Regions from separate parts of the Homo sapiens genome. Here region 1 is linked to region 2. The links come from fine-mapping of genetic effects on gene expression. Tissue or cell type: lung. Region 2 holds a variant in brackets; the other region holds the start of a gene. All regions are shown on one strand. Distances are from middle to middle.

What was found. PIP is the estimated chance that this variant, and not a neighbour inherited with it, causes the effect. A credible set is the group of variants that fine-mapping cannot tell apart.
Region 1: MROH2B starts here. The variant in region 2 is the best candidate, but not a certain one, in a credible set for the expression of MROH2B in lung (GTEx, PIP 0.69).

What each region holds. Positions count from the first base shown.
Region 1 is chr5:41,068,564-41,073,563 of GRCh38, reverse strand. It overlaps MROH2B (maestro heat like repeat family member 2B), which reads left to right and starts at 2,222. Exons shown (of 42, transcript NM_173489.5): 1 at 2,222-2,739; 2 at 3,812-3,873. The coding sequence starts at 2,712. It overlaps LOC105374739 (a long non-coding RNA gene), which reads right to left and starts at 2,207. Exons shown (of 6, transcript XR_001742650.2): 1 at 1,636-2,207.
Region 2 is chr5:40,971,385-40,976,384 of GRCh38, reverse strand. It overlaps C7 (complement C7), which reads right to left. Exons shown (of 18, transcript NM_000587.4): 15 at 3,791-3,982. Among named protein-coding and RNA genes, the nearest start is that of C7, 64 kb to the right of the region's middle. The variant T/C (reference allele first, on the strand shown) is at 2,426.

The DNA of each region.
Region 1 (5,000 bases), 97 kb before region 2:
TCATTCTCAGCAAACTATCGCAAGGACAAAAAACCAAACACCGCATGTTCTCACTCATAGGTGGGAATTGAACAATGAGAACACATGGACAAAGGAAGGGGAACATCACACACTGAGGACTGTTGGGGGGTGGGGGGAGTGGGAAAGGATAGCATTAGGAGATATACCTAATGCTAAATGACGAGTTAATGGGTGCAGCACACAAACATGGCACATGTATACATATGTAACAAAACTGCACGTTGTGCACATGTACCCTAGAACTTAAAGTATAATAATAATAAAATTTTTAAAAAAGAAATTAGGCTTATCTCATGAAACTGACAAATCAAACAAAACACAGCCTAATTTCACTTTTAATATATTTTATAAAAATCTAACACGTCATCTGAAGAATAAAAGGATAAATATCAAAGTTTAGATTAATTGTAGTATACATTAAAATCATCTACAATTAAACTATTAAAACCATAAAATTTAAATTTTTATAACGTTTCTGTATTATTTCTATGTATCTATTCTTCTTTAGCTTTATATTTTACCTTTACTGCCTTATTAATATTTTTGTCTGATAACATCATGTGGGAACATAGTAGGCCTGGGATTGGGTAGCTTCATTTGACAAGTTACATTGAAAGGGGATGGCTACCACATATCCAGTGAGACACTCTAATTCCTTAGCAGGCTAGATTTAGGCTCCCTCACAAATATCTAGAAACAGTACTTAATTAGTTAGCACATGCCATCCTATTCACTTTGAGAATTCGTGTTTAGGATCCTCTTAGAGTCTTAGAGAAATCAAATCCATATTGTGTTAGCCTCATGCAATGAGAAGAGGAAGAAATAATGGGAAGATGTAACAAGCAGGCGACTGAAAAATGAAATAAAATGACAGCAAATCAGCTATTTTGAGGATTTGGGGATTTTAAAACTATCTGCAGTATTGGTTTCAATGAGTGAATTTACTTTGTCTGAAAGGATTTTAGCAAAAAGTTGTGTTTTGATTGCAGCGATGAATAAATTAAAAGTCAAAATAAATCAATTATCTCCTAACTTCTCTAATCTCTATGAAATCAAGGAAGTCTTTATATACAGACATACAGAAAAATCATTTGTCACCATTCACAAAAATATTAAGAAAATGGTTGTAACAATTACCTAAATGGCTAGCTTTCTTATTATTGATTCTGCTGTACATTGTTTTTTAAGACTCTAAGAGCACATAATTTCTAACATCATTTTTTCCCTTATAGGGAATCTGTTGTTTTATTTACTACAAGTAGACTTAACATCTTATAGATGTTAAGAGTTTCGGGATGCCTCTAATCACCCCAGTACCTCCCTGACTAACCAAACTTGGCCTATTCTTCAGTGAGTCATGATGCTGGGGAAGAGCTCCTTGCCCAACCACAACAAACATTCTTCAGTTAACTGCTATTTACTGATCCACTAATGAATGTTTGGGCAAGGACCTTGGTCAGTGCTTTTCAAAGTTCAGTGAACCTAAGAATCACCAGGGGCGCACATTAAATATATAGATTGCTGCCCCCTCATTCTAATTTACTGGGTCTGAAGTGGGGCCTGGGAATTCACATTTTAAATAAGGATACCAAGTAAATCCCATGATAAAGTCACCTGGAGACAAAACTCTGAAAGTGATGCTGACTTGGGAAGCGGAAAATGTTGAGGATCTCTTTAATACAGTGCAAAATGTCTATGAGAAGAATGATGAATTCAAAGGTTTAGTTGGAAGCAGTTGACCTTTGAATCTGGAATAAGCTTCACCGATGAAGTTAAGATGGCCAAAAAAGCAGCAGCAGATGAAAATTGTCATGAGCTCCCCTCCTCAGCCCATTCTACATTTAGCCCTATAGACTAGCAGTACTGCCTTCCCTTTCTCTATCATCCTCCATATTCACATAGAGTCTGGACATATATTGAAGATTGTCATCACATAGATTTATAGTTGGGGACCAGATTTCAATTCATGCTAGATAAGTTGAAAACATTATGGAAAATTGATCTAGATAAAAAATAATTTGAAAACAAAAAGAAAGCTGAAGACAGAGAAAAAGCCTGAGCCTGGAGTGAGGCCAAGATCCTGAACATGCCAGGGAGGAATTAATGGAGAGGGAGGTAGAGAGGTCTTCACTTTGCTGCTGTCAGTTGGACATTCCATCCAACTGCCCCTGAAGTGCATTCCAGTCCACTGAGCATGCTCAGTTCATATGACTGATTTTCACTAAGTGTAACAATCAACGAGTTCACCATAAAGCCTTTCCCAACATCAGGACAGTAAAGCAACTACTGAAAACCATTCCTGAATTTGTGATCAATGGACTCAAGTTTAGGGAGAGGAGCACCTTTGGTCTGCAACAATGGTTTGAATCCCAGTCTCTAATTACTTCTTTCCCAAATACTCTGGTCACCAAAGGGACAATATTTGGTGAGATGCAGCCATTTTGTTGGTTAGCAGGAGTTCAGACGCAAGACAATGTCATAGTGGTAGAATACAGTATCAACTTCAACAGCAAGCCCATCTCTGGAAGCTCCCAGACCATTGTGCCAATCAAGTGGAGGAGGCACTTTCATTTAGAGAGGCTTATGTGAACCTTATATGAGAAACTTGCCAACCTGCCTCTTTGATTTTTTAGCCTTACTATTTCTAATACTTAGGTGCTATCTTTTAGAGACCCTGAAACAGCCAAGACATGACACTTAGTACAGAGGAATCCATAGGTAAGCATCATCAGATCCTGAGAAGCCAAGGCTCTTCCCTGTGTTTTGTTTCTGTGGAATTATAAGTATATATGAGGGCTGGGAGTGGCGCGTCATTGTGGGAGGACTGTACACCTCAAAGGATTTATGAAATGGTATGCTAAATACATAATAAAATCATGCTGATTGTGAAGGACCAATAATAGACTGGAAGCCTAAGAGATGGTTGTGCTTTAAAATTTAGAGTCTACCTGAGGAGAAAGTGGCTACATATCAAAGAAAGGCAGTTTGTTATTTAATTTTAAATACTAGAAGAGTCCTTTGGAAGTATTTCTCCCAATTTCCAGGTATGGCTGCCTTTCTACTTTGCCAAAAAGATTGCCCTAAATGAGTATGTTGTTTGGTGTGGAGGTTAATAAGAAATCTTCATCTCCAAAAGTATTTCTCCTACCAACTTGCCATGTAGCTTGAAATTGCTCAATTCCTTTGACTCAATTTTTTTTCCAGTTTTCTAGAGTGCTTTATTCAAAAACATATATTCCTAGAAAATGCAAGTCAAACACATTTAGGTCATTGTCAGAAAACAGGAAGCCTTCATTAGCATGTGACCAAAAGAGGGAGTTGGCAGGCACAGGAGAATAGGTGGAGTTGAAAAGGGTATGGAAAAAGAAGATGGGAGAGGTATTGAGGGGAGGACCAGTGAAAAATAAACAGCTATGTTGCACCCCTGCCTTCTAATGCTTAAGTCAGGAGTGAGAAATTCACCTCATTGACTCTGAGAGCTAAATCCTGCAAGAGAGAATTTACAAGGCAATGCCCACTTGCCTGGAGGGATACATAGGAATCCGGCATCTTTTATCTTCCCTTTCACATTTGATTCAGGTTTCAAAAATAATAATAACTTAGCATCTGCTAGTTTCATTTATGTCATGGATATGAATAAAACAGTTCCTGCCATCAAAGAGCTAGCAGTCAAGGGAGAGAGAGAGAGAGAGGATAAATGAATGAATGAACTTTCTGTGTTGATTACAAAATAATTAACAGGAGGGCATTTCAGCATATATTTCAATTCATATTTTTCTGTACGTTTTAGAGATGTTTGGGGATATTAACCTCACTCTTGGCATGCTGAACAAGGAAGATATTGTTAACAAGGTAGGGAAAACAGAGAAAAATCTTTTTCCCTTTTTCAGTCTTCTTGTTGCAACATTTCGTATATATTTTTCTTTGTCTCAACTTTCTCATTTTTCTCTGGCTTGTTACATGGCATTAGATTTTTCAGTAAATGCAGTTGTAATGAAAGTCATTGTAATGTTTAAGCAATGATATTTGGCATTTCAAGAATCACAGCATCTATGTCTAGAAAATAGCAAAAAAAAAGTTCCTTTTTATAACTTTATACAGGCAGATGTTGAAAGGTGTATGTCAGACTTACAAACATGTGGATGAGACTGTTTCTTTTATAATTTGAGGGTTGTTACAAAAATCCCAAAAGCTCTTCCCTGCTCATCTATAATGCTATTTCACAGCTAGAAGTTTACCTAAGAATTGAAGGCTTTTCACATTTCAACAACCTTTTATAAAATAAAAGAAATAACTGCCCTTCATCGAACACTTATCTGGGAAGTAAAATGCTAGATATTTTCCAAACAACAGTGTATTGTATAATATTCACTCCTCAGAACAATTTTATCAGGTAGTTATTGCTATTTCCATTTGATAACTGAGAAAAAATTAGGCAGAGAGAAGTTACATGACTTGCTCAACTAAGAACAACAGGACTATATCCAAAAGCAAGCCCATCTGACTCCAAAAAAAAATGTTCCTAATCATTATTCAGTGTTGTCTCCTTGTGAAGGGCAGTGCCTATACCTTTATCTCTTAATTCAGTGGTTCTCAACCCTGACCATATATTAGAATCCCTTAGAGAGTTTTGGGAAAATATCAACACCCAGGCCCTACTACCAGGGATTCTGATTGGATCAGTCTGTGAAAAGCTTGGGCATTTTAAGCACCTGGAGGTAATCCAAACATTTAGGTACGGTTGAAAACCATTACATTAATCTCTCAGTAGAAGTCACCTTTCCGAAAGAACACTATTTCTCAAACATTGGGAATCACTTAAGAGAATAACCTCCGGATCCCAGAAACATTGAAGGAGAATTTCCAGTAAAGGGATCAGAGAATATATATTTTTAACAAGCACTTCCTAGTTATTTTATGATGAGTCTAGTTAAAGAATAATAATAGCCAGCATAACCAAGAGGTTAAGGTGCCAGCTA
Region 2 (5,000 bases):
CCCAGGCAGCATTTAATTCTACATTGGTCTGAATCCAAGGACAATAAAGTGGCTCCCTTTCAAGAAGCTGGTGCTTATAAACTGTTTGTTGTTTGGACTGCATTCTGCCTGCTGTGCCCATAATGAGGCAAAAAGCAGCAACATCACTTGCCTTATACATGGAGAACTCCCTGGTGTGCCGAGAAGATCTACAATAACCTCTTACATATGAATGTCTAAGTGGTCTCCCTCAACAGTGAATAAATGTCTGGAGGTCATTACGTTAATAAAATTCTTTCTATAACTTTGTGTTTTATAGAAACTGACAATTCAGTCATCATTTCAGTTTTGACAGGTAAACACCGTGGTCCAACTTACAAGAGCATAATGTGACTGCCATCCCCTCAGCTATCCCTGATTGCAATGGGAATGATCTAAAAACATCCTGACTTTTTTCACCTCGTAATAGCTTTATTACAATGAAATTCATTGCCATACACTTTTGCATCATAAAACTAGATAGTCATTTACTATATCTATAAAGGTAGTTTATCTGGAGAATATGTTTTTATGAATACACAAACTATGAAATACTTCCTTACTTTGGAAAATTCAAGAGCCTTGGACATGACATTACAATCTTGTGAGCATTCATAAACCTGTAAAAATGATGGCAATGTGAAGTATGCCTGCCATGGTCAGCAGTCTCAATAACAAGATTCATTATTAAAACACTTCTCTTGGCTGGGCGCGGTGGCTCACGCCCGTAATCTCAGCACTTTGGGAGGCCGAGGCAGGCAGATCACTTGAGGTCAGGAGTTCACGACCAGCCTAGCCAACATGGTGAAACCCTGTCTCTACTAAAAATACAAAAATTAGCCGGGCATGGTGGCACATGCCTGTAATCTCAGCTCCTCAGGAGGCTGAGGCAGGAGAATTGCTTGAGCCCGGGTGGTGGAGGTTGCAGTGAACCAAGATTGCGCCGTTGCACTCCAGCCAGCCTGGACAAGCGAGACCTTGTCTCAAAAAAAAAAAAAAAGCACACTTCTCTTTAAAATGGTATTATCCTAAATGCAACGTAGTACCCTGAACTGGACCCTAGAACATAAAAGAGACATTAGTGGTAAAACATGAGGTATTTGAATAAAGTGTATAGTTTAGTCAATAGCATTGTACTAATATTAATTTTTTAGTTTTAACCAAGTTGTGTTATGTAAGATGTTAATATTAAGGAAGATGGGTGAAGGGTGTGTAGAAATTATATCTGTGACTTTGCTGAAATCTAAAATTATTCCAAAATGAAATTTTTTAAAAATGGTATTATCTACATCAGTGCTTCTCAACCAGGGGCAGTTTTGTCCCCCAGGGGACATCTGGAAATCACTAGGGACATCTTTGGTTTTTACAACTGCAGAATGTTATTGACATAGGAGGATGCTACTGTTGGGTAGAGACCAGGGATGCTGCTAAGCACCCTGCAATGCACAGAAGAGGCTCCCATAGCAAAGAATTATTAGACCTAAAATTCCAATAGCGTTGAGGTTGAGAAGCCTTAATCTAGATGTACCAAAACTTAAGGTCAATGATCAAGCCATGTAAATTAGTTCTGCACTGTGGTTAAAAATTTACTTTAGGACAAATCCTGAAATTTTAGATTTTAAAAGTTTGCTTAAACTATTATAATGTCAAGCCGGGCGCAGTGGCTCACGCCTGTAATCCCAGTACTTTGGGAGGCCGAGGCGGGCGGATCATGAGGTCAGGAGATCGGGACCATCCTGACTAACATGGTGAAACCCCGTCTCTGCTAAAAATACAAAAAAAAATTAGCCGGGCATGGTGGCGAGCACCTGTAGTCCCAGCTACTCAGGAGGCTGAGGCAGGAGAATGGTGTGAACCCGGGAGGCAGAACTTGCAGTGAGCTGAGATTGTGCCGCTGCACTCCAGCCTGGGTGACAGAACGAGACTGCATCTCAAAAAAAAAAAATGTATTATAATGTCTTTGTGGAAAAAAAAAAAAACGATAGAATTACCTAGCCCAAAGAATTTTTGCATTTAAGAAGAACATAGCTTTGTTGCCTTTACAGCTTGGTTAACCAAGTAAACACACTCTTAAGGCCCACCGAAAGTATGTGCTTTTGCTATTTTAAAAGCAAATTTATTCCCATCAAGACTAACTACGGGGACAGTAGGGGAAAGTGAGGAATTAATGTTTAATGGATATAGAGCTTCAGTTTGGAAAGATGAAAAAAAATGTGGTGATGGTTGCACAACAATGGGAATTACTTAATGCCACTGAACATACATTTAAAAATGGATAAAATGGTAAATGTTATGTTATGTATGCTTTATTATAATAAAAAAAAAGACTAAATACTAGAACAGCCAACATTTTAAAACATCAACTTTGGAAGCTGGTAAGTCTTGGATTTTTTTGTTTGTTATAGGC[T/C]TAGAAGTAGTTACTGTTATTCACATCTTCAGAAAAACACACAGATCTGAAAAACATCCTTAATTAAAACCCACTTTAATAGAATTTTCTACTGGGTAAATGAAACTTCATACCAAACTGTGCTGTAAAATAGCTGAAGTAGCATTTTAGACAGACTAGTCTACAATCTCATTTGAACCAAAAGTGCAACCTCATCAACTGTATATTGTTCTCTTTCATTTTTAGAATTGTAAGTACTGGTCCATGACTTTAAATATTCCAAGTAAACTCATGTTTATACTTCAGTGTTTACAGAACACAAAACAACTGTCCTCTGAGATGGAGCTTTGATAACTTAACAGCACATCAGGACAGGCAGGGAGGGCACTCCAAGGACGTGTGTCTTGCCTATTGTTCTGCCTCTCATCCACTTCACATCACAGCCCATATCTACCATCAGTATCTGAGTGCTCCATACCCTGTCGCATGGAGAACTTAGTTAGAAACATCTAATTCACCTCACACCATCACCTGTGAAATCTAGTACTTCATCCTCACTATTAAAAATAAATTTCAGCGTTTAATTAAAAATCACATACTAGAGAGATAATATCACATAAAATAGTATGCAAGTGAGTTTTTCTTCATTCTCATTTTTGTTACAAATACAATATTTTCCATTTATTTAAAAAATGTAAACAAAGAATAAATAAGGGGTTATTGTCAAACAAATCTATCTCATCTAAAATTACCTCTAAAAAGAAATAATTTGGCTTTCTAAATCCTTTCTACCTTAGGTTCTTAAAAGACCATTTTAATTTTCTTGGTGTTAAAATACTGGATTTTTGGGTTTCCACATTAAGAACAATTTCATGAATCACAACACTTTTCCTTCAATAATGTCTGCTTTAAAGTGTTAAATGAAAATGCTTTCTAAATTTTCAATTTCAGAAATACTGATAAACTCTTTGAAAGCCCAAAAATGAAACATACAGAACTTTAAATAAATTATGATCTCAACTCTGTACTTATGAAAAATGCAGGGGAAAAAAATCTAGAGGAAACAAACAAACAAACAAAAAACAGATTTTAAAAATCCTTTATTGTCTTGGCACCATAACAGATATAAAGCTAATCTTTCACAAGGATGATTTAAGTTAAAAGTTTCAGAATCACCAGGCTATCCTTGCCTTTCCTTGCTTTCATGAGTCTTTCTGTGCCATGTGAAGAAAATCTGTTACTCAGTCTACAAACTGACCCTATCTTAAGGAGCAAGAATGGAGGGAATGACTCACAGCTATGGTGATACAGTACCATGAAGGTCGCCACAAGGACTCTCACTTGCCTGGGTACAAGTGTCCTTGGATAGACATGGAAGCCACTCACCTTTTTGTACACAGCGGGCATTCTTCATCTCAGGACTCCACTTAAGGCTGGAGCCACAGAGAAATGCTGAAGGACCTTCTAAGGACATGCCACCTGAACAGGAAACAGTCACCTTCTCACCAACTGTGTAGAAAGGTTTTTGGGGGTGACTCTGTATGCCATCCATCAGTACAGGTAGAACACAGGCAATTTCTAAAGATAAAAGAGAGCAAAATATAAGGGTCGTTGCTCTCCTAAACCATCTTTTTAAAAAAGTCTTATGTGATGCAGACACACTTGTTCTGCTTTTTCATATTAGAGGACAAGGAGGAAGACGTAAGTTCACTGTTAGGGTGGACTGAAAGACATGTCACACAGAGCCTGGCACGTAATTGACCCATGAATATCTAAAAACCAAAACAGCTCCCCCTCTCCCACCCCTCCCCTCAAAACAATGTGACAACTTAAAATGAACAACCCCAATAGAGTCCTAATGCCCAGCCTACTGTTGAAACCAAACTTTTCACAGCTGTCACTTATTTATGTGCTCTAGTGATGTTCCACCAGGAGAGTTTCATTAACTTTCATCCAGTTGGATATTTTGCCGTCTGAAATTATTAAAACACCACTTTTATTTATTTATTTATTTTTATTTTTTAGGGACAGGGTCTGTCTTGTTGCCCAGGCTGGAGAGCAGTGATTATTCATAGGTCTAATCAGTGTATACTACAGCCTCAAATTCCTGGGCTCAGAAAAGCAATGGGGAAAGGATTTCCTGTTTAATAAATGGTGATGGGAAAACCGGCAAGCCATATGCAGAAAACAGAAACTGGACCCCTTCCTTATACCTTATACAAAAATTAACTCAAGATGGATTAAAGACTTAAATGTAAAACCTAAAACCATAAAAACCCTAGAAGAAAACCTATGCAATACCATTCAGGACATAAGCATGGGCAAAGACTTCATGACTAAAACACCAAAAACAATTGCAACAAAAACCAAAATTGACAAATGGGATCTAATTAAACTAAAGAGCTTCTGCTCAGCAAAAGAAACTATCATCAGAGTAAACAGGCAACCTACAGAATGGGAGACAATGTTTGTAATCTATCTATCTGACAAAGGGCTAATATCCAGAATCTACAGGGAACTTAAACAAATTTACAACAGAAAAACAAGCAACCCCATCAAAAAGTGGGCAAAGGATATGAACAGACATTTCTCAAAA